Linked DNA regions of Homo sapiens: all the other regions are linked to region 3. Evidence: fine-mapped expression QTL. A gene starts in region 3. Each other region holds a variant in brackets. All regions are shown on one strand. Distances are between the middles of the regions.

Region 1 (7,207 bases), 38 kb after region 3:
TTCAAGCAATTCTCCTGCCTCAGCCTCCCAAGTAGCAGGGATTACAAGCATGCACCGCCACTCCAATCTAATTTTGTATTTTTAGTGGAGATGGGGTTTCTCCGTGTTGGTCAGGCTGGTCTCAAATTCCCAACCTCAGGTGATCTGCCCACCTCGGCCTCCCAAAGTGCTGCGATTACAGGTGTGAGCCACCGCACCCGGCCAGGCCTTGTTTATTTTTAAAGCCATTATTTGGAAATGATCTTCAGAATCTACAGTGTACGGGTTCTACAGCAGCTGCTTTCCCATCCATGATTTCATTAATCCTCCCAGTATATGGCAACTAAGATTTCTGTTATGCTGTATGGTATTTTAGTTACAAAGACGTACATGACTCAAACTATGAATGATAAATATCAAACTTGGTTCATGTCAGAACCTAGTGTTGAGGGAGGGGCACATAGAAGACTTCAACTGAATTGTTTTCTTTCTGAAGCTGGGTGGTGAGTGCACAGGTATTTGTTGCATTAGTTTTTATACCTTTTGTTTGTTAATGTATTTTATTAGACACATTTCCAAAAGTGGTCAATGAGTGTTTATTTTAGTAGGTTAGAAAGTGCAGTGGGCGTGGTGGCTCACGCCTGTAATCCCAACACTTTGGGAGGCCAACATGAGTGGATCACTTGAGGTCAGGAGTTTGAGACCAGCCTGGCCAACATAGTGAAACCCCATCTCTACTAAAAATACAAAAATTAGCCGGGCATGGTGGCACGCCCTGTAGTCCCAACTACCGGGGAGGCTGAGGCAGGAGAATCACTTGAACCCAGGAGGGAGAGGTTGCACTGAACTGAGATCATGCCACTGCACTCCAGCCTGGGCAACAGAGCGAGACTCCTTCTCAAAAAAAAAAAAAAAAAAGTGTAAAGAGCAAAAATTCCTTCTTTCTCCTACCCTCCAGAAATAGTCACTGTTGGCTTTTTGGTGGGGATTTAGACAGTGAATATATGTTTATGTGTATGTTTATATATATGTTCTTAAATAAAATTGAGATCACATTATACCTATTTGTAACTGGATGTCCACTTCCTATGCTCTTCCGTGTACTTTATGGGCTGTACAGCATTTCATGTTGAGTGCACCATACTTATTTAACCAATTGCCTTTTGATGGACATTTTGGCTGCCACCCCCATTATAAATGTGCTGTAATGAACACCTTTTTATATCACTATGTGTGCCTGTTAGCACTTCTGTCTGATGGAGTAACAGAAGCAGGATTACTGTTACACATGTGAGAATTGAAGTCTATCACAAAAATGTCTTCCTACAAATTAGTTCTATCAGTGCTAGACGTAAGTGCCCTCCTCTAGATACTGCACCAGTTCTGGGTCTTCTAAATTTATGACAGGCTGAGTCAAAACAGAGTATCTCACTTTTCTTTTCTTTCATTTCATTTCAATTTAATTTTATTATTTGTCATCAATTTGTGACAGGGTCTCGCTCTGTTGCCCAGGCTGGATGGAATGCAGTGACATGATGATGGCTCACTGTAGCCTCCACCTTCAAGCAATCCTCCTGCCTTAGCCTCCCAAGTAGCTAGGACCACAGGCACACACCACATTGCCTGGCTAATTTTTTTTTTTTTTCTGTGGAGATGGGGTCCCACTATGTTGCCCACGCTGGTCTTGAACTCCTGGGCTCAAGCAGTCCTCCCATCTTGGCCTCCCAAAGTGCTAGGATTACTGGTACAAGCCACTGTGCTCAGCCTCACTTTTAAAATATGCATTTTTTTGTTTCTGAGATTGTTTTTCTCTGTTAGTTATCTGCATTTCTTCTTTCCGTGAATTACCTATTCCCATCCTTTGTGCATTTTTGTATTTTTTTCTCATTGATTTATCAAGGTCTTTATGATGCTGCTTCCTAACATTGTATATATACTGCTTCACAATTTATAAAGCACTTTTCCTATGTGTAATAACACTCGATCCAGTTCTGAGTTGCATTTTGTGGTCTCAGAATAGTTAGCCTAACCTGCCTTCAGTCTTCCTGCTAGTGAGAGGAGTCTGGACTCCCACCCAGATTTCCAGATCCTAAAATGAATGTTCCTTTTGCTACACTGCAGTTTGCAATTTCCATCTTCCAAATCCAGGAGTATTTTGGGAAGGTTTTGTTTTTCTGACGTCTGTTCCACAAGAGCAGAGCTCATGAATGGCCATGATTTAATTCCCCAAGTCTCTGCTGGAGCCTTCCCAGCTGTCATGAGGTTGAGTATGGCTTTATCATCATGAAACAAGTCATCAGAGTCTTTGAATCTTGCGTAGGAATTGGAAGTCGGGGTATACCAGGATAGGTTTTCAGCACCAGGTGTGGCACTCACCCTCCGGTATGCTTGGCAGAGTTTGTGAAGCGGCTCCGGTACTGCGAATACCTAGGGAAGTATTTCTGTGACTGCTGCCACTCATATGCAGAGTCGTGCATCCCTGCCCGAATCCTGATGATGTGGGACTTCAAGAAGTACTACGTCAGCAATTTCTCCAAACAGCTGCTCGACAGCATATGGCACCAGCCCATTTTCAATTTGCTGAGCATCGGCCAAAGCCTGTATGCGAAAGCCAAGGAGCTGGACAGAGTGAAGGTGAGCCGCAGCCCCAACCCCATCCCTCTCATTGGAAGTGTCCTGTGGCAGGAAATGCACATCACACTAGCTTGGGGAACCCACAGATACATCCTCTAAGAGGCAAATGGATCATAAAGCGAGTGAAGCGGCTGGGCGCAGGGGCTCACACCTGTAATCCCAGCACTTTGAGAGGCCAAGGTGGGCGGATTGCCTGAGGTCAGGAGTTCGAGACTAGCCTGGCCAACATGGTGAAATCCCATCTCTACTAGAAATTAAAAAAAAAAAAATTAGTCAGGTATAGTAGCACACGCCTGTAATCCCAGCTACTCGAGAGGCTGAGGCAGGAGAATCGCTTGAACCCGGGAGGTGGAGGTTGCAGCAAGCCGAGATTGCACTACTGCACTCCAGCCTGGGTGACAGAGCAAGACCCTGTCTCAAAAAAAAAAAAAAAATTAGTGAAGCTTACACTTTGGAGCCCCTCTCCTGCACAGGCTCTTTCCAAGGCCCCACACTGAATCTTATACTTAGTATTATGTTTTTCTTGAAGAAGGCCCCAAAGTTCTGTAAGTTTTAGGTTCTACAAAACCTGGATCCATCCAGGGCACACTTTGTGGATCAGCAGACTCAGTTGTGAAGGCTTGCTGTATAGGCGGTTTGCTTTCAAGGTTTGTTTTATACAAGTGCAGCATTTCAAGCTTAGAAATAACATTTAAATTTGACTTGCACTTTTCCCGTGTCATTTATTACATTTAACTTTTCCCCGTGTTTGGTTTCTCCCATTAGGAAATTCAGGAGCAGCTCTTCCATATCAAGAAGCTGTTGAAGACCTGTAGGTTTGCTAACAGGTACTATTCTCAGCTGGGACAGGCTGCCTTCCCTCCATACATCTGCTAATCCTATTAGTGCCTCCTGCATCTGGCTCCCCCATTACACAGGGCTTCTTAGCACAGTGATGACCTCATGGCTTTCCTTGGGAAATCATGCCATCTCTTTGAATTACTAAGCCAATAGTGGGATGCATTAGTCTGTTCTCAAGTAGCTAATAAAGTCATACCAGAGATTGGGTAATTTATAAAGGAAAGAGGTTTAATTGACTCACAGTTTTGCATAGCTGGGGAGGCCTCACAATCATGGTAGAAAGTGAACAAGGAGCAAAAGCACGTCTTACATGGTGGCAGGCAAAGAGAGAGCATTTGCAGGGGAACTCTCCTTTATAAAGCCATCAGATCAGCCAGGCAC[G/A]GTGGCTCACACCTGTAATCCCAGTACTTTGGGAGGCCGAGGTGGGTGGATCACGAGGTCAAGAGATCGAGACCATCCTGGCCAACATGGTGAAACTCTGTCTCTACTAAAATTACAAAAATTAGCTAGGCGTGGTGCTGCATGCCTGTAGTCCCAGCTACTTGGGAGGCTGAGGCAGGAGAATCGCTTGAACCTGGGAGGCAGAGGTTGCAGTGAATCAAGATCGCACCACTGAACTCCAGCCTAGAGACAGAACGAGATTCCGTCTCAAAAAAAAAAAAAAAATCAAATCTCGTGAGACTTATTCACTACCATGAGAACAACACAGGAAAGACGTGCCTCATGATTCAATTACCTCCCACCAGGCTCCTTCCATGACATGTGGGAATTATGGGAGCTACAGTTCAAGATGAGATTTGGGTGGGGACACAGCCTAACCGTATAATGGAGAATTTAACTCATTAAGAAGAATGGTTTAGTTGGAGGATGAACAACTCTAGCCAGTGACCTTTTTATTATTATTATTGTTATCATTAAATTGTGGTAAATACATATAAAATTTACCATCTTAACCATTTTTAGAATACACTTCAGTGGCATTAAAGTATTAACATCGTTATGCAATCATCACCACCATGCAGCCCCCAAACTCTTTTCATCTTGCAAAACTAAAACTCTGTATCATTTAACAACTCCCCATTCCCTCTTCCTCTTAGCCTAACTCCTGGCAGCCACTATTCTACTTTCTGTCTCCATGATTTTGCCCACACACATGCCTTATATAAGAGGAATCTTACAGTATTTGTCTTTTTGTGACTGGCTTGTTTGACTTAGCATAAAGTCCTCAAGGTTCATTCATGTTGTAGCATGTGTCAGAATTTCCTTCCTTCTTTTTTTTTGAGACGGAGTCTCCTTCTGTCGCCCAGGCTGGAGTGCAGTGGCGCGATCTCGGCTCACTGCAAGCTCCGCCTCCCGGGTTCACGCCAGTCTCCTGCCTCAGCCTCCCAAGTAGCTGGGACTACAGGCGCCCGCAACCACATCCGGCTAATTTTTTGTGTGTTTTTAGTAGAGACAGGGTTTCATCATGTTAGCCAGGATGGTCTCGATCTCCTGACCTCGTGATCTGCCCGCCTCGGCCTCCCAAAGTGCTGGGATTACAGGCATGAGCCACCGCGCCCAGCCAGAATTTCCTTCCTTCTTAAGTTTGAATAATATTTCATTGTATGTATATACTACATTTTTTTAATCCATCTATTCATCCATGGACACTAGGGTTGCTTCCCCTCCTTGGCTATTGTGAATAAAGTGGATATGACCATGAGTATACCAGGGGCCTTTTAAAACCCCTTATAGGGAGGCATGTCTAACCAAGTGGAACCATGGTCTTCAAAAATTGTACTTTTGGAAGTTTATCCTAAGGACATACCGATGGATATAGGTAGAGATTTAAAGTATAGTTTTTTTTGTTGTTTTTGGTTTTGTTTTAAGACAGAGTCTAGCTCTGTCACCCAGTTTGGCGTGCAGTGGTACAGTCTTGGCTCACTGCAGCCTCTGCCTCCCAGGTTCAAGCGATTCTCGTGCCTCACCCTCCCAAGTAGGTGGGATTACAGACATGTGCCATCACACCTGGCTAATTTTTGTTATTTTTAGTAGAGACAAGGTTTCACCATGTTGGCCAGGCTGGTCTTAAACTCCCGACCTCAGGTGATCCGCCTGCCTCAGCCTCCCAAAGTGCTGGGGTTACTAGTTTTGTTTTTAAATAAGAAAAGGCATTAAAAGTCTATTAAGAGGTATTATGCTCTCTCCCTGGGTGATGGGATCATTGATACTCCAAACCTCAGTGTCCTGCGATATACCTGTGTAACAAACCTGCACACATACCCCCAAATCTAAAATAAAAGTTGAAATTATTTTAAAAATCTAGGTGTTCGTAATAGGGCAGTACTTACATTAATACCATGTCCGTAGAATAGAATACTATACAACCAGTAAAGACTTAGGCATGAATTCATTGAGAGAGAGATTTTTAAGTAGAAAAAGCATAGGTTGCTCAAGGAAGTTAAGATTGTTTATTGTACTTGGTGGAATTATAGAGTTTTTAAATAAATGGTTTAGCTTTAAAGCGTTTTTTTCAGTCTCTAATCTTTAATGATGATGTATTGCTTTTTAATTAAATTTTGGGGGAAGGAGCATGTATTCTGGAGTCATTTGGTTTTGAGCCTTTGCTTCATGGCCTTGGCGTGGCATTGGTCTCAGGGCCTCGGTTTTTTCATCCACAACATAGAACAATACCTATACTTCCTACCTTGTACAAAAAATCTTGAATATCCATTCTGGGCTTCAGATAAAAAAAATTAGTAGATCTGTATTAAGTCCAGGGGGATGGTCAGCACCAACCGATCACTGCTGGACTGAGTGTTAGACACGTGTCGGGGGACCATGAGGATACAAACGGAGGCAGCATTTAGCTCAGTTAGGAGTGAGATAGGGTAGACCGCAAGCAAGGATTCCAGGAGAAAAAGGCTGAGCTTGAAGAGTAAGGTGGAGCAAAGAAGAGGGATTGGGGATTCTCCAGGCAGAGGATGCCGCAGGAGTGGGCACCTCAGGCTGGGTGCAGAATTGAAGAGAATTTGGCATTGTAGCATGCCAAGTCCAGTGTAGGCCATGGCTGTCTTGGAAGTGCAGGGAATAGTGCTTCTACTAGCCATTGAGAGAATTCAGGTCGACACCTGCCGGGTTTGGAGAAGATGAAGTTTTGAATGCCCTAGGGACCATGACCACTGGCAGTTGGCTGCATGAGCCTTAAGCTCAGTGCCTGACTCGTGCATTTGGAAGTCATAGGCTTGCCGAGTGAGTGAGAATTTTCGCAGCTGAGCCAACAGTCCATAAGGCTGATAGACTTGAAATGTAGCTGGAAGAAATAAGGTAGGAATTTTGATTACTTGGTAATCAAAGGGTACTAGGTTCACATTCTTTAAGACCTAAAAAACTAATGCTCAGTTTTCTTTTGCTCAATGTGTGCATGGGCAGGCTGTAAGAGATACAGGTCTCTGCTTATTCAGCTTTTTGAAATCAGCTTTCATGGAATTTTAACTTCCTGGCTTCCAAGCAAACTTGCAACATGTAGAATGGTGGCGAGCATGGTTCACTGTTGTTCTTGGAGCTATTTATTTTTTAAATTGAGTTAAAAAAAAATTAAGTGTGAGTGCCAAGAGAAAACAACTGGCCCCATTCTTCCCTGTCCTCTGTGTGGGTGGGTTTCTGAATTCCTCTTTGTTTCCTCTCTGGCAGTGCATTAAAGGAGTTCGAGCAGGTGCCGGGACACTTGACTGATGAGCTCCACCTGTTCTCCCTTGAGGACCTGGTCAGGATC
Region 2 (6,832 bases), 83 kb before region 3:
GCAACTTTTTTTTTCTTTTTTTTTTTTTTTGATACAGCGTCTCACTCTGTTGCCAGGCTGGAGTGCAGTGGTGTGATCTCGGCTCACTGCAACCTCTGCCTCCTGGGTACAAGCGATTCTCCAGCCTCAGCCTCCCAAATAGGTGGGACTACAGGTGCGTGCCACCAGGCCCAGCTAGTTTTTGTATTTTCAGTAGAGACAGGGTTTCACCATATTGGCCAGGCTGATCTCGCACTCCTGACCTCGTGATCTGCCTGCCTCGACCTCCCAAAGTGTTGGGATTACAGGCGTGAGCCACCGTGCCTGGCCCCTATGCAACATTTTTGATGAAAAAAAACTCAACTGACTTTTGAAGATAAAAGGAAGAGCCAGGTATGTTTGGATTTATATGAAGAGTTTACATTTAAATTGATTTGAAAATTCCTTTCATTCAACAATTAAATACAGATTTCATCTCTAATAAGAATTCATTTGTCTACAACTCAGAGTGGCCAAAGGAAATAGCAACACAGAGAACTTAGTCTATTGAATGAACAAATAACTCATTCACCAACAAGGCTGCTACCTCTTAGGATCTGCTGGGAACATGTGAGTGAAAAACTAAATGTAGGAATCAAGGTAAAACTTACTGTTTATCACCATAGGCAAACACATCAGTCACTGCATCATCTATCTCCTTCAAGTTGTGAACCAAAACATATCTGATACAGGTCTCAATCCATTTAGAGATAAATTGCCCAAGGTTAAGTATATGCAGCTGAGAGGCAGGTCTGTGCCTTTCTCCAGAGATGATTTTGAGGGCTTTAATATTTAAAGGGGAAAGAGCGGATACTGGGGAAAGAGGAAGAAATGTTTACAAGGTGTGGAAAGATACGAGACAAATGGTTGCATTCTTTTGAGTCTTTGATCAGCCTTTCACCAAATACGCAATTTACACGTGAGAGGAGGGTAAAGGAGTAGTCACTTACGCCTTAGTCTAGCTCAGTGAATGTGCATTTTTACAGAGGAAGCAATCAGATATGCATTTGTCTTAGGTGAGTACAGAGGGATGACTTAGAGCTCTGTCCTTTGTCCTGTACCTGTGAAGATAAGCTATCAGTTTACATTGTCAGGGTAAAATTCAACAGAACTGTTTTAGGGTAAAGATCTTGGGGCCCACAAGGAATTTCCTGATGAACAAATTGTGAGGGAGGTATGTAGCCTTTTAAAAAATCTTGGCCTGGTGTGGTGGCTCATGCCTATAATCCCAGCACTTTGGGAGGCTGAGGTGGGTGGATCACATGAGGCCAGGAGTTCGAGACCAGCCTGGCCAACATGGCAAAGCCCTGTCTCTACTAAAAACCCAAAAATTAGCCAGGCGTGGTGGTGCGTGCCTGTCATCCCAGCTACTCAGGAGGCTGAGGCAGGAGAATTGCTTGAACCCAGGAGGCGTAGGTTGCCGTGAGTGGATATTGTGCCATTGGACTCCAGCGTGGGCAACAAGAGTGAAACTCCATCTCAAAAAAAAACAAAAAAAAAATCTTTGGGCCGGGTGGGATGGCTCACATCTGTAATCCTAGCACACTGGGAGGCCAAGGTGAGCAGATCACTTGAGATCAGGAGTTCAAGACCAGCCTGGCCAACAAGGTGAAACCCTGTCTCTACTAAAAATACAAAAAATTAGCCAGACATGGTGGCAGGCGCCTGTAGTCCCAGCTACTCGGGAGGCTGAGGCAGGAGAATCGCTTGAACCTGGGATGCAGAGGTTGCAGTGAGCTGAGATTATGCCACTGCACTCCAGCCTGGGTGACAGAACGAGACTCCATCTTAAAATAAATAAATAAATAAATAAATAAATAAATAAATAAATAAATCTTTGTAGCTGTCTTATTTAGGAATAAAATGGGAGGCAGGTTTGCATGACACAGTTCCCAGCTTGGCTTTTTCCTTTGGCTTAGTGATGTTGGGGTTCCAAGATTTATTTTCCTTTCACAAAGCCAAATTTTAAAGGTCACGATAGAAATGGAGACTAAAGTTATTTGCTGTCATTCTTTATACATCTGACACTTCTAGTATCTAAACCATTAATGTATCCCTTGGTTTCCAACTATATAAATAGAACTTGGCCCACTCTTTTGTATAAAAAGTGAATCGTACCCCTGGCATATGTGGTGGAATGGTAATTTTATTAAGCAGTGAGTGTTGGTTAAATAAATTGTGGATCAGCCATATTATGGACTATTACACAGTCATTCAAAATCAGGTTTTTTGAAAGACATTTAGTGATTATAAAGCTGCTGATGCTATAATGTTGTTTCTAAAAGCTAGATATTTGATAAGATGATTTTTTTAATATGCGTATGTGTAACATATATACTGTGCATCCATATATGCAAAAAAGACTAAAAGAAAATATACCAAAATATTAATAATGGTTATAAGTTTTAGGATTATATATGATTTAGACATTTAGAATATTTTTCCATCCCAACTATTGTACAATGCACATATTATATTTAGTATAGAAAAAAAAATGTTGTTTAAGAATTGCTATCACTCCCAAAGTGTCTAATCTATTTTCTGGAACATTACCAAAAGATGAACATTAAATTAGACGTTGATAATGTCAGGAAGACAAATTTGATCATTTTGCAAACTATTTACTTTGGTTCCCTGGCCACATGCTACCCCAAATCTGCAGAGCTGTCCCTAAAACAAAAGACACAGATAACTGCTGGTGAAGCAGCTTGAAGTCGTTGTCTTTTTTTTTTTTTTTTTTTTTTGAGACAGAGTCTCACTTTGTTGCCCAGGCTGGATGGAGTGCAGTGGTGTGATCTCGGCTCACTGCAGTCTCCAACTCCAAGGTTCAAGCAATTCTCCTGCCTCAGCTTCCCAAGTAGTTGGGATCACAGGTGCCGCCACCACACCTGGCTAATTTTTGTATTTTTAGTAGAGACAGGGTTTCACCATGTTGGCCAGCCTGGTCTCGAACTCTGGGCCTCAGGTGATCTACCCACCTCAGCTTCCCAAAGTGCTGAGATTACAGGCATGAGCCACCACACCCGGCCTGAAGACCTTGTCTTTTCTTTTCTTTTTTTTTTTTTTTGAAACGGAGTCTCACTCTGTCACCCAGGCTGGAGTGCAGTGGCACGATCTCTGCTCACTGCAACCTCTGCTTCCCGGGTTCAAGTGATTCTCCTGCCTCAGCCTCATGAGTAGCTGGGATTACAGGCACCCGCCACCACGCCCAGCTAATTTTTTGTAATTTTAGTAGAGACGGGGTTTCACCACGTTAAGCAGGATGGTCTCGATCTCCTGACCTTGTGATCTGCCTGCCTCGGCCTCCCAAAGTGCTGGGATTACAGGCCCGGCCCAAGCCCTTGTCTTTTTTTTGTTTTGTTTTTAGCCTGGAGGGCAGTGGCGCGATCTCGGCTTACTGCAAGCTCTGCCTCCCAGGTTCACGCCATTCTCCTGCCTTAGCCTCCCGAGTAGCTGGGACTACAGGTGCCCGCCACTACGCCCAGCTAATTTTTTATATTGTTTTAGTAGAGATGGGGTTTCACTGTGTTAGTCAGGATGGTCTCGATCTCCTGACCTCGTGATCCGGCTGCCTCGGCCTCCCAGAATGCTGGGATTACAAGCGTGAGTCACCCACCGCGCCCGGCCCCAAGCCCTTGTCTTTTAATGGGTCAATTGCATCATCCTCACCTATGAATGACAGCACTGGAAATGGTGACTCCATGGGTAAATACATGGTTTTATTTTTCCTTTTCTTTTCTTTTTTTTGAGATGGTGTCTCTCTATGTTGCCTAGCCTGGTCTCGAACTCCTGGGCTCAAGTGATCCTCCTGCCTCAGCCTCCCAAAGTGCTAAGATTACTGGTGTGAGCCACCATGCCGGTCCAGCAATCCATGGTTCCATATAGGTGAATAGGAAGACTTTCTTTCTTATTATTTAGATATCTTTGAAAGATAATCAGTAGTTTAAAGCAAAATTAGCTCCATACTAAATATTCATACTAGCTATTTTAATTTTTATAATTATACTATTGAAGTGGATACTCTTATGCAGACTTTACAAATGAACAAACTGAAGTTTAGAGATTCTAAATATTCTAAATAAATAGGTCATATAGGCATATCATTATACTGTCTATTGCTCAATGCCCTTGACAGTGCACAGTTCCTTGGCTAAAAGTATGTGGAAGCAGGGAAAAATGAATCCAGCAATTACTATATTTAGCTGCTTTTACAAATGCCTCTTGGTTAAAAAAAAAAAAAAAAAGACATTCATTGGTAGACATTACCACATTGCCAAGTCACTCATAAATCTAAGTACGAAAGTCAGTAAAAAAGGATGATGTTATCTGATTCACTGAAAGGGAAATAAGCTGAGATCTGCTGCGTTAGGACAAAGGCCAGCTGGGCTTTATGAGAATTCAGATGGCAAGGAACAAGCTTTTTATGGCAATGACAGAGGGAGAAGGGAACAATATTATAAGGAAGAATCTTTGTGGTTCAAACAGATTATGTGGTTTATTATTTTCATTTAGATTAGGGAAAAAATCAGTGGGCACAGAATAAATAGCAACTGCCTCTTTCCCCCTCCCCAGCAAGCAGAATATTGATTTCCTCTTTGAGGAAAGGACACATTAAAAAGAATACTCTTGAGATGATAAATATGCTAATTAATGTGATCTAATCCCTATACATTATGTA[T/C]ATGGAAACACCACTATGTACCCCATGAATGTGTACAATTATTGTCAATTTAAAAATACAATTTTAAAAACACTCATTTTATTTTTTTAAATTAATTGTTCTTATTTTAAAAATTATTATTTTTTAGGGATGGGATCTCACTGCATTGCTCAGGCTGGTCTCAAACTCCTGGGCTCAAGCAATCTTCCTGCCTTAGCTTCCCAAAGTTCTGGGATTACAGGCATGAGCCACCACTCCCAGCCAAAAAAAAAAATACTCATTTAAAGCTGCACAAGTTTGATGGCACAAGTCTGTATAACTGGACCTGTGCCTTTATAAAACCTCAAACACTGCAAAGGTTCATGAAACAATGTATATCTATTCTTCTTATTCACTGTCATCAATGCTGACCAGGGAAAATTGCACAGGTGCACGTGTGTGTGTGTGTGTGTAGGGCTAGTGAAGCAGGCAACTACCAGAGATACATTATTAAAAAGCTAACATTTATTGGCCAGGCGCGGTGGCTTACGTCTGTAATCCCAGCACTCTCACGGGTGGTGCCTCCCCGGCAATGGGGGTCCCAAGATCCAGGGGGGGAAAAGGGGATGGCTCTCAGCCACCACAAAATGGGGGGCCTTTATGTTCAGGTTTTGCCCAAGAGTCAGCTTATTTGCTTCTTGTACTAGCAGGGCAGTTGCTGCCAAGGCCTCAAACAGGGGAGCCATCCTTCAGAAACCCTGTCTAGTTGTTCAGAGACGTAGGCCACCGGCCTCAGCCAGGGCCCCACAGTTTGGGTTAAAAGTCCAGCTGCCATCTTTTCTCTCTCTAACGCATACAATGGAAAAGGCTTTGTCAGATCGGGTAGCCCCAGGGCTGGGGCTGCCAGAAGTTTTTCCTTTAAGTCATGAAAGACTTGCTGTTCTTGGATCCCCATTCCAAAGGTTCCGGTCCCCGCCCCCTTTGTGACCTCATACAAAGGCTTGGCTAATACTGCAAAGTTTGGGATCCACAGTCTACAAAACCCCACATCCCCTGAGAATTCTCTCGCCTGCCTTAGGCACTTAGGCTCCGGGAGATTGCAAATAACCTGCTTTCTTTCTGTTCCCGGGCTGCGTTCGGACTCCTGTCAGATAGTAAATCCTAAGTAAGGTACCTGCCATCGGCAGATTTGAGCTTTCTTCTTGGACACCTAATACCCACAGTCCTCCAAGTGGGTCCTAAGGTTCTTAGGATCCGCGATGGGGGTCCTATGCCGGGGGGGACGAGGGGCTGGCTCTCAGTCCCTGCCTCGTTGGGGGTGCCTCCCACCCCTGCGATTGGTGTCCTAAGAGCCAGGGGGAGAAGAGGGGCTGGCTCTCAGTCCCCGCCTCGTGGGGGGTGTCTCCCCCCCTGCGATGGGGGTCCTAAGAGCCGGGGGCAGAATAGGGGCTGCCTCTGCGTCCCTGCCTCGTGGGGGGTGCCTCCCCCTCCTGGGATGGGGGCCCTAAGAGCCAGAGGGGGAAGAGGGGCTGGCTCTCAGTCCCTGCCTCGTGGGGGGTTGCCTCCCCCCCTGCGATGGGGTTCCTAAGAGCCTGTGGCGGATGAGGGGCTGGCTCTCAGTCCCCGCCTCGCAGGGGGTGCCACCCCCCCTGCGATGGGGGTCCCAAGAGCCACGGGGGGAAAAGGGGCTGGCTCTCAGCCACCACAAAATGGGGGGCCTTTATGTTCAGGTTTTGCCCAAGAGTCAGCTTATTTGCTTCTTGTACTAGCAGGGCAGTTGCTGCCAAGGCCCTCAAACAGGGGGGCCATCCTTTAGAAACCCTATCTAGTTGTTCAGAGACGTAGGCCACCGGCCTCAGCCAGGGCCCCACAGTTTGGGTTAAAAGTCCAGCTGCCATCTTTTCTCTCTCTAACGCATACAATGGCAAAGGCTTTGTCAGATCGGGTAGCCCCAGGGCTGGGGCTGCCAGAAGTTTTTCCTTTAAGTCATGAAAGACTTGCTGTTCTTGGGATCCCCATTCCAAAGGTTCCCGGTCCCCGCCCCCTTTGTGACCTCATACAAAGGCTTGGCTAATACTGCAAAGTTTGGGATGCACAATCTACAAAACCCCACAGCCCCTGAGAATTCTCTCGCCTGCCTTCGGCCCTTAGGCTCCGGGAGATTGCAAATAACCTGCT
Region 3 (7,207 bases):
ATGCCATTAGGCACCCTCTGGTAGCTTATAATGCAGTTCATTTCATCTCATTTCCTTCCTGTTTTGTACAGAGACTGGTTTCCCCTTTGCTGACTGTCAGCTGAGTTCAAAACTGGGGTCAAAGCTCTGCTCACAGCACAAATCACTTCTTGTGAAGCCTGGCTGGGTTTTGGCAGGCAGCTGCTAGGCTTTCGGTCTTTTATGAGGCTATCCTGGCCACAATGGAGCTTTGTGTGTGATCAATGGGTGCTGGGCATGAGCCCGGCTGGGCTAGCTGACACAGTGAGTTGTCCCTGACACTCATGACTTTCAAGCCCTGTGTCTTGGAGGGCACTGTGATCTGGAAGTTCACCTTCCCCATGAAAAAACCCAAACCAGCCTCTCCTTTTCCTGCATGGTGATCCGTCTGTAATGATCAGTGACATTCTCAGAATTAACCAATCAGGAAATTCTTGGAAAGTCCACGCCTCAGCATTTAGTGCTTGGGAAATTCTACTTCCAGATCCCAGAGGGGACAGAGCAGATTTCCAGTGAGCATTCCTAACTTGAAAAACCTGTCCTTGAATGTTTCTCCTTAGTCCTAGAGATGCTCTTTCAGAATGTGAACCTCCTGCGTCTGTGACGAGATGTAGAAGGTCTATACTCAGAGTTAGTAGGATGTCCACGTGATAGTGCCTAGGCCTGCCTTATGGCAGTTTTGAGAAAGGTGATTTCAGAGTGGCTTCAGAGGGGATGACTAAAGCCCACAATCTTGGTCCAAAATATCCTAATCTCCCTACAAAAACGATTTTCTTGCCTTGGACTATGTCCAGTCTGCCAACTAGTACAGCTGTTTCTGGTTTTTGACTCACTGATTTACCTGGCATGACATTTCCTCTTGTTTCAAGATTCTTTCTCTAAGTTCCTCCTGACTCCTCTTTCCCTTTAAGTATTCCTGAAACTGGCTCTTGCCTGGTCCCTTTATTTCATTATTCTTCCATCTTGCTGGTAGTATGGTGGAAATTGGACATAGGGTTTGGTGTCAGATACACCTGCCTTCAAAGCCTAACTGTGCTACCTATTAGCTCTGTGACCTTGGGCAAGTTATTTGAACCTAAGTCATAGATTTCCCCCTTGCGAAATGGGAACAAATGATTTGTTATTCTCAGGGATGTTCACAGACTTGCTTAAAATAATAAGAAAAAGTACCTGGCACATAGCCGATACTCAAAAAATGTTAGCACACACCCACACCTTTTTCTTTCTGATTCATTTAAGGTAAGCCCTTCCCAATCGGCCTTCAGCTGACCTGAATTCCTGGGATACTGTATTTGGAATTTTAAATATTCCAAATATCCAGAGTTCTTGCAGGTCAAAGCTGGTCTATGCTCCAAACAGGCTGCCCCCAAGGGAAGCAGGGTAATTGGCAGCTAGTATTCATCTGACTTTTGTCATATTGATTCAATATTTTATCTGAAGATGGCAGCAACTAGTACATGGTGCCACCGTTTAGCCACTCCATGCCAGAGGTACCAGGCAAGTAAAAGCCAAATTACCAGTGCCTCTGCTCCATCCTGGAAATGACAAAGGACAAAGCCAAGGAACCCAGGAAAGTGCAACGGGATTTGGTTTTATGCAGCAGGGAATCTTCTAAGAAAGCCAGGACCGGTTCACCTACGTGTCATTACCAGTGCAGGCAGCTCAGAGGTCCTTCCCCGGGAGAAGTCAGGGCACCGCGAGAGAGAGCTTAGCTTCCTTCCTTCCTCCATCCCTCCCTCCCTTCCTTCTGGGACTTAGGTTCCTTCCTTCCTTCCTTCCTTTCTACTTTTCTTTCCTTCCTTCCTTCCTTGGCTTTGGTTCCTTCCTTCCTTCTACCTTCCTTCCTTCCTTCTTTCCTTCCTTCCTGGGCTTAGGTTCCTTCCTTCCTTGGCTTAGATTCCTTCCTTCCTTCGCCCTTCCTTCCTTCCTTTCTTTGCTTTCCTTCCTTCCTTCCTTCCTTGGCTTAGGTTCCTTCCTTCCTTCCTTCCTTCTTCCCTCCCTCCCTCCCTTGGGTTCCTTCCTGCCTGCCTGCCTGCCTTCCTCCCTCCCTCCCTCCTTCCCTTCTTCTCCTTTCTGTTTTTTTTTTTTTTTTTTTTTGACAGTCTTGCTCTGTCGCCCAGGCTGGAGTGCAATGGCGCGATCTCGGCTTACTGCAACCTCCGCCTCCCGGGTTGCTCCTGCTTCAGCCTCCCTAGTAGCCGGCATAACAGGCACCCGCCACCACGCTCGGCTAATTTTTATATTTTTAGTAGAGACAGGCTTTCACCATGTTGGCCAGGCTGGTCTCGAACTCCTAACCTCAAGTGATCCATCCGACTTGGCCTCCCAAAGTAGGTGCTGGGATCACAGGCTTGAACCACCGCACCCGGCCAGAGCTTAGGTTTCTATTCGTGACAACTTTCTGTATTGGTTGGCAGGTTCTCCTAGCACCACCATGATCTCAGGACTAACCACTGCACACCCGTGATGGGATTCCAAACCTTCGCTGCAAGAGGACAAGGTGACGAGTTGCTGACAGTGAAGGCTAAACTAACGCGGACAGTGAAGTGCTACATGAGTCGGACTCAGACTCCAGGTGAAGCAGCCAGCAGAGGTCAGAGAGAGACAGCTCACGTTCCGGGTAAGTTGCAGGTCGATTTCAGGGCCGACTCATCCAGATTACTCATTCTTCATTTCAGGCAATTGTATGACTGCTAAATACTGCTGCTGGGGGCATCTGGGGTTGGGAAGTCATTTCTGCCAGGTCTTTGACCCCTGAAAGCGTCGTTGCGTCTCGCGCCGCGGGTAGGCAGGGCGGGATTTCTAGGAGGACCGGCAGAGGCGCGCATAGGTGCGTGGTGCTGGGCCCGGGCGCCGCGGCACCGGTGTAGGAGCGCGCATCTCCAGAGTTTCTTCCATCTGGGCGACGTCTCGGTGCCTGCGGCGGGAACGGCGCTTTGCTTCCCTGAGGAGCTTCTAGAGAGCTACGGTGGCCCCCGTGTGGGAGGCGGGGGGCGTGGCGGCGTCGGGGCGTCGCTGTCCCCTCCTCGGTAGCTCTCCTCCCTCCCCTTTCTGCTGTTACCGGGAGCGCGGTGGCCACGGAACGCTGCCCGGAGCCGCGCGAGGGAGGACCCGACGCGCGGCGTTTACCCAGCGCAGCGTTCCACCGCTCGGGTTTGGCTGGGTGAGGCTGGCGGGGCCGGGGGCGAGATGGGAGCGGCGCGGGGTGGAGAGGGTGGTTGGAGAAAGGGAAGGGAGGGCCGCGGGAGAGGTTGGATGGTGGAAGTGGCGCCAGAGAGGTTTGTGCCCAGCAGAGACACCCAGGTATCTTAGGGTCGCTCAGAGCAGTGTCGGGGACCCCTTGGAGACAGTAGGAAGGGGCTCCTCGCGGGGTGGCGGATTTCTATCCGGTTGACTTTGTAGAGTGAGGTTGACCCTGTGTTCGGCTTGGGCCGGGAAGGGCGCAGAAGCGGGACCTCAGGACACTTTTACGCAGGGCGATTCTCAGAGACTACAAAGCCTGCGCCCTGCGTCCTCCCAGGCGCAGTGTTCTGGGATCAGTGTCTTTTCTCTGTTTTCGTCCTCAACACAGCCAAAGTCGTGGATATGTGGTGACAGAAAAACATTTGGCTACATAACTGAGCTAGGCTGGAGTGTGAAATCGCGGCGTGTTATTTGGTCCGGGCGCCCTACATAGCAACCCCCACTCTTCTCGCCCCCAACCCCCCGCCACGCCGGACACGGTCAGGCGGGCGTTCCCCCAACCCGCCCCTTGTGAAGTCCACCTGCTGAGACTGATACAGATCCCCTGCGAACTTGATGCTGTCCGCTTGGAAAACGTGGAGAACTTTCAGAGGAGGGGTTATTTCGCCTTGAGTGAAAATTAAGACTCAAAGGAAAAGGTATACTCAAGAGCTGCCCTTACTGGGTTATTTCTGTGGAATTTGGAAGGATCTTTGAATTGAAGATGTGGTGGGAGCGCGCAGAGAACAGAGAATCCGTAAGCTTGAGTTTCTTAGACCCAGTTTCTTAAAGCCAAAGTAGCGGGGAGATCTTGGCAAGTCAAGAAACCTTCTTGAACTTCAGTTCCCTTGCCTCAGGGGGAGAATACTCCAGCCATACCCCACTGTGTGGTTTAGAAGGTTAATGGCCTGGAGGGAGGGAAGTGTTTTGAAGCCTATAAAGTATCCTGTGAAGGTATCACCACATTGCTGCCCACTGAAACACTGCCGGCCGCCGACAGAACTTTGTTTGGAGCCGAGTTAAGACAGCATCTTTATGGCAGTGCTGGGGTTTTCGTGATTACCGGTCCAGAGTGTCAGGACACCTCTGTTTCTCAAACCCCAGTTTCTGCACTGCCACATGAAACTGCTCATTACTGAGTGACAGCAGAGGACAGGAACTTTGCCTTCTTCATTAACTTCTTTAGGGCCTTTACAAAGTGGGAGATGGTAGGAACTTTGATGAAAATTGAGGGTCATAGCCTTGGAGCGGGGTGAGGGGTTAGATTTGACTGGACATAGTCTTCATGCAACCGTTTAACAACAAAAACATTGTTGGCTGAGTTCTTGTTTTTTGATACAAGGAACATTCTGTCGGAGCCAAGGTTAAACATCCAAGAGTAAACGTTTGTTGGTTTTTTTTTTTTTTTGCATGATCTTTAGAGGATAAGTAAAAAACTAAAGAAAGGCTGCATTGCTTGCTGACACATTTTTTCCCCACCCATCTGAAGGCACACAAATAATAGCACTGGCAAATTTGAATAGTTTCCCTTGTTACCAAATCTACGTTCTTATTTCTAATATGGAACGATTATTTCTAGTATGGAGAGAAATATGGAATTTCTAATATGGAAGATTTAGCATGGTGTGTCATTGTAAAAATTTAGGCAGTTCTTGGATAAGTATGTCCAGCCTTCCAGAGACTATAAGTGTAGTAATATTAGTGCCTGTTAGTCATATTGTGTATCTTCCTGATACCCAATTAGATCTCTGATTGTTTTTTCTTTTTAATTAAAAGGAGCTGAAAGATGACTCAGTTAAGAAGCTGGAAAATAAAACCAGGTCTCTGTAACTGTGCTGTCTTATTCTGAACTGAAAGTCTTTCTGCAATAATAATGATGGTGATAATAAAGCTAACCTTCATAGGACATTGTGTACCAGACTGATACACGTGCTACAATTCTGTTCGTTCTCACACCATCCTTCATGGGGGAGGTTAAGAGCATTGCTCAAAATCACACAGCTAATAAGTCATTTTTCTCAGATTGGCGTTAAAATTATATTTAATTGGGTCCTGTGTGTGCGAGTGTTTTAACTTTTGCATTGTCTTTTATCCCACACACGGAGGCAACATGGATGGTGAGACTAGGGGCTATGGACAAGGTTCCAGGGTTTGGACTTGAGCATGCTGCTGAGTGGCTATGTGGTCATCACTTTACTTCCTTTTCTAACCCGTAAAATGATGATAATAATTCTACATTGAATGAATCCTTTGTTTCTACTGAGCCCAAAGTCTGCTCCGTAAAGGTAAAATACTTCTCAGAGTGTAGAAAGAAAAGTTTCAGATTCAAGCCTTTTTGTCATCAGTAGGCTGGAAAATGAATAGAAGTTAGAATAAACTATACACTTAATGTGATTTTTCCAACAATTATGTTGAAAAATTGTTCAAAAATGCATTCATTCCAATGATCCTTAGCTTTATATTTATTAAAAGAAGTAAATGTAAATTAGACCTCAACGTTTTTTTTTAACAGGTAACGTTGAAAAGCACCCACAGTAAGCAGGTACTGTTTGCTGGTTGATTTTAGATGATGAAAATTGTAGAGTAAGTACGTTTGCAGAAAACTGTAGAGTAAGTACAATTATAGAGTAAGTATAAGAAGAATTGTATTCAAAGGTATTGTATTATTCTTATAAAGAAATGTATTCTTCTTATACTTTTTTACGTTCTTTTATTCCGACAAGCTAGAGTTGATCAGAAAAGAACTGAATTCCAAAAATATGTTTAGGGCACTTCCCTATTCTCTCTGTATTTACTTGGAAATGATTCTTAGAAGTTTTTGGCATGGGACTTTTAAGTTTGTTAAGTGAAGGGACTAGCACTTATCTATATGCATATTTTGCAAGTATTTTTAAAAATATGGCTCAATTGTTAAATCATTTTATTCGTCCCATGACTTATATAAAAATCTGGGGGTTTTTTGGTTGCTCACTTTTAGTTTAGGCTTGGTTTTATGGTGATCTGGGCTCAGGGAGGTAGACATGTCAATGTCATTAGCATTGCCAAGGTATAGGCAGTCTGCTGCATGCTGTGTGAATATTAATATTCTGAAGAGATATTTGAGTCCACAAGATTTAAAGATCTTCTGTTCACCGCTGTGCTTGTAGAATTAGGGCTAAATTAGTTTAGCCTGGGCCTCCTGGGTCTTGGTCATTTGAAAATAGCTCCTCAAGTAGGCTGGCTATGTGTCTTAGTATAGCAGAAACAATTCATTATTCACTCCATGTGTCGTCTATTATACTGTGAAATTACAGATGATAGTTTTCTTGCTTTCTGTTTTTCCAAACAGTGCCACCTGGACTTGTGGGTTTGGCTCATATACTGACTGTTTCTTAATCAAGATAGCTTTAATAGTCTTCACCCTACCCCCATCCTCCAGCTGCCCTTTGGATGTTGCTGTGTAGAAACCAAGAGAGTTCATTTTTGTTGGGGGCTGGGCTAGGTTGCTAATAATCTGAAGCACCATGAAGGATTCTGACCTAATCAAGGCATAAGGAAATGATGTGTGTGTGTGTGTAGAAAATTTGGAACTGTGCCAGGCACAAAGTAAATGTCATATAAGCATTAGTTATGAATTGATGAGGAGGAAGGTGTCAGAAGATGAATGCTGTAGAGAAGGCTATGGGGCAGTACATGGAGAGAGTGGTTATCTGTAGAGATGTGGTTTTGTCATAGGTGATGGGAAAGGTCTCAGTTTGAAGGTGATGGGTAAGGTCTTCATTTGAATAAAGATCCACAAGAGAGTATGGGTAGAGGGGCATAGAGGTGTCCAGGTAGCAGATAAGGAGGTCAGATAGGCAACCTAGGGACTCCTGGACAGATGTAGCAAATTGAAGGTTTTTAGAAAACTTAAACGGGAATTTTTTAATGGAAAATTTCAAACTTAAACATAGAATAGTACAATGAACAACCTTCTCCCTTCTCCCAG

What was found. PIP is the estimated chance that this variant, and not a neighbour inherited with it, causes the effect.
Region 1: its variant is fine-mapped to the expression of RUBCNL in whole blood (TOPMed, PIP above 0.99).
Region 2: its variant is fine-mapped to the expression of RUBCNL in whole blood (INTERVAL, PIP 0.94).

Annotation. Positions count from the first base shown.
Region 1 is chr13:46,345,519-46,352,725 of GRCh38, reverse strand. RUBCNL (rubicon like autophagy enhancer) reads left to right here. Exons shown (of 15, transcript NM_025113.5): 11 at 2,375-2,613; 12 at 3,379-3,440; 13 at 7,126-7,207. Among named protein-coding and RNA genes, the nearest start is that of RUBCNL, 38 kb to the left of the region's middle. The variant G/A (reference allele first, on the strand shown) is at 3,835.
Region 2 is chr13:46,466,726-46,473,557 of GRCh38, reverse strand. It overlaps LINC01198 (long intergenic non-protein coding RNA 1198), which reads left to right and starts at 6,782. Exons shown (of 6, transcript NR_120426.1): 1 at 6,782-6,832. RefSeq lists a silencer at 6,653-6,827. The variant T/C (reference allele first, on the strand shown) is at 4,697.
Region 3 is chr13:46,383,108-46,390,314 of GRCh38, reverse strand. RUBCNL (rubicon like autophagy enhancer) reads left to right here and starts at 3,063. Exons shown (of 15, transcript NM_025113.5): 1 at 3,063-3,181. RefSeq lists enhancers at 1-63, 2,287-2,396, 2,417-2,516, 2,547-2,826, 3,207-3,296 and 1 more.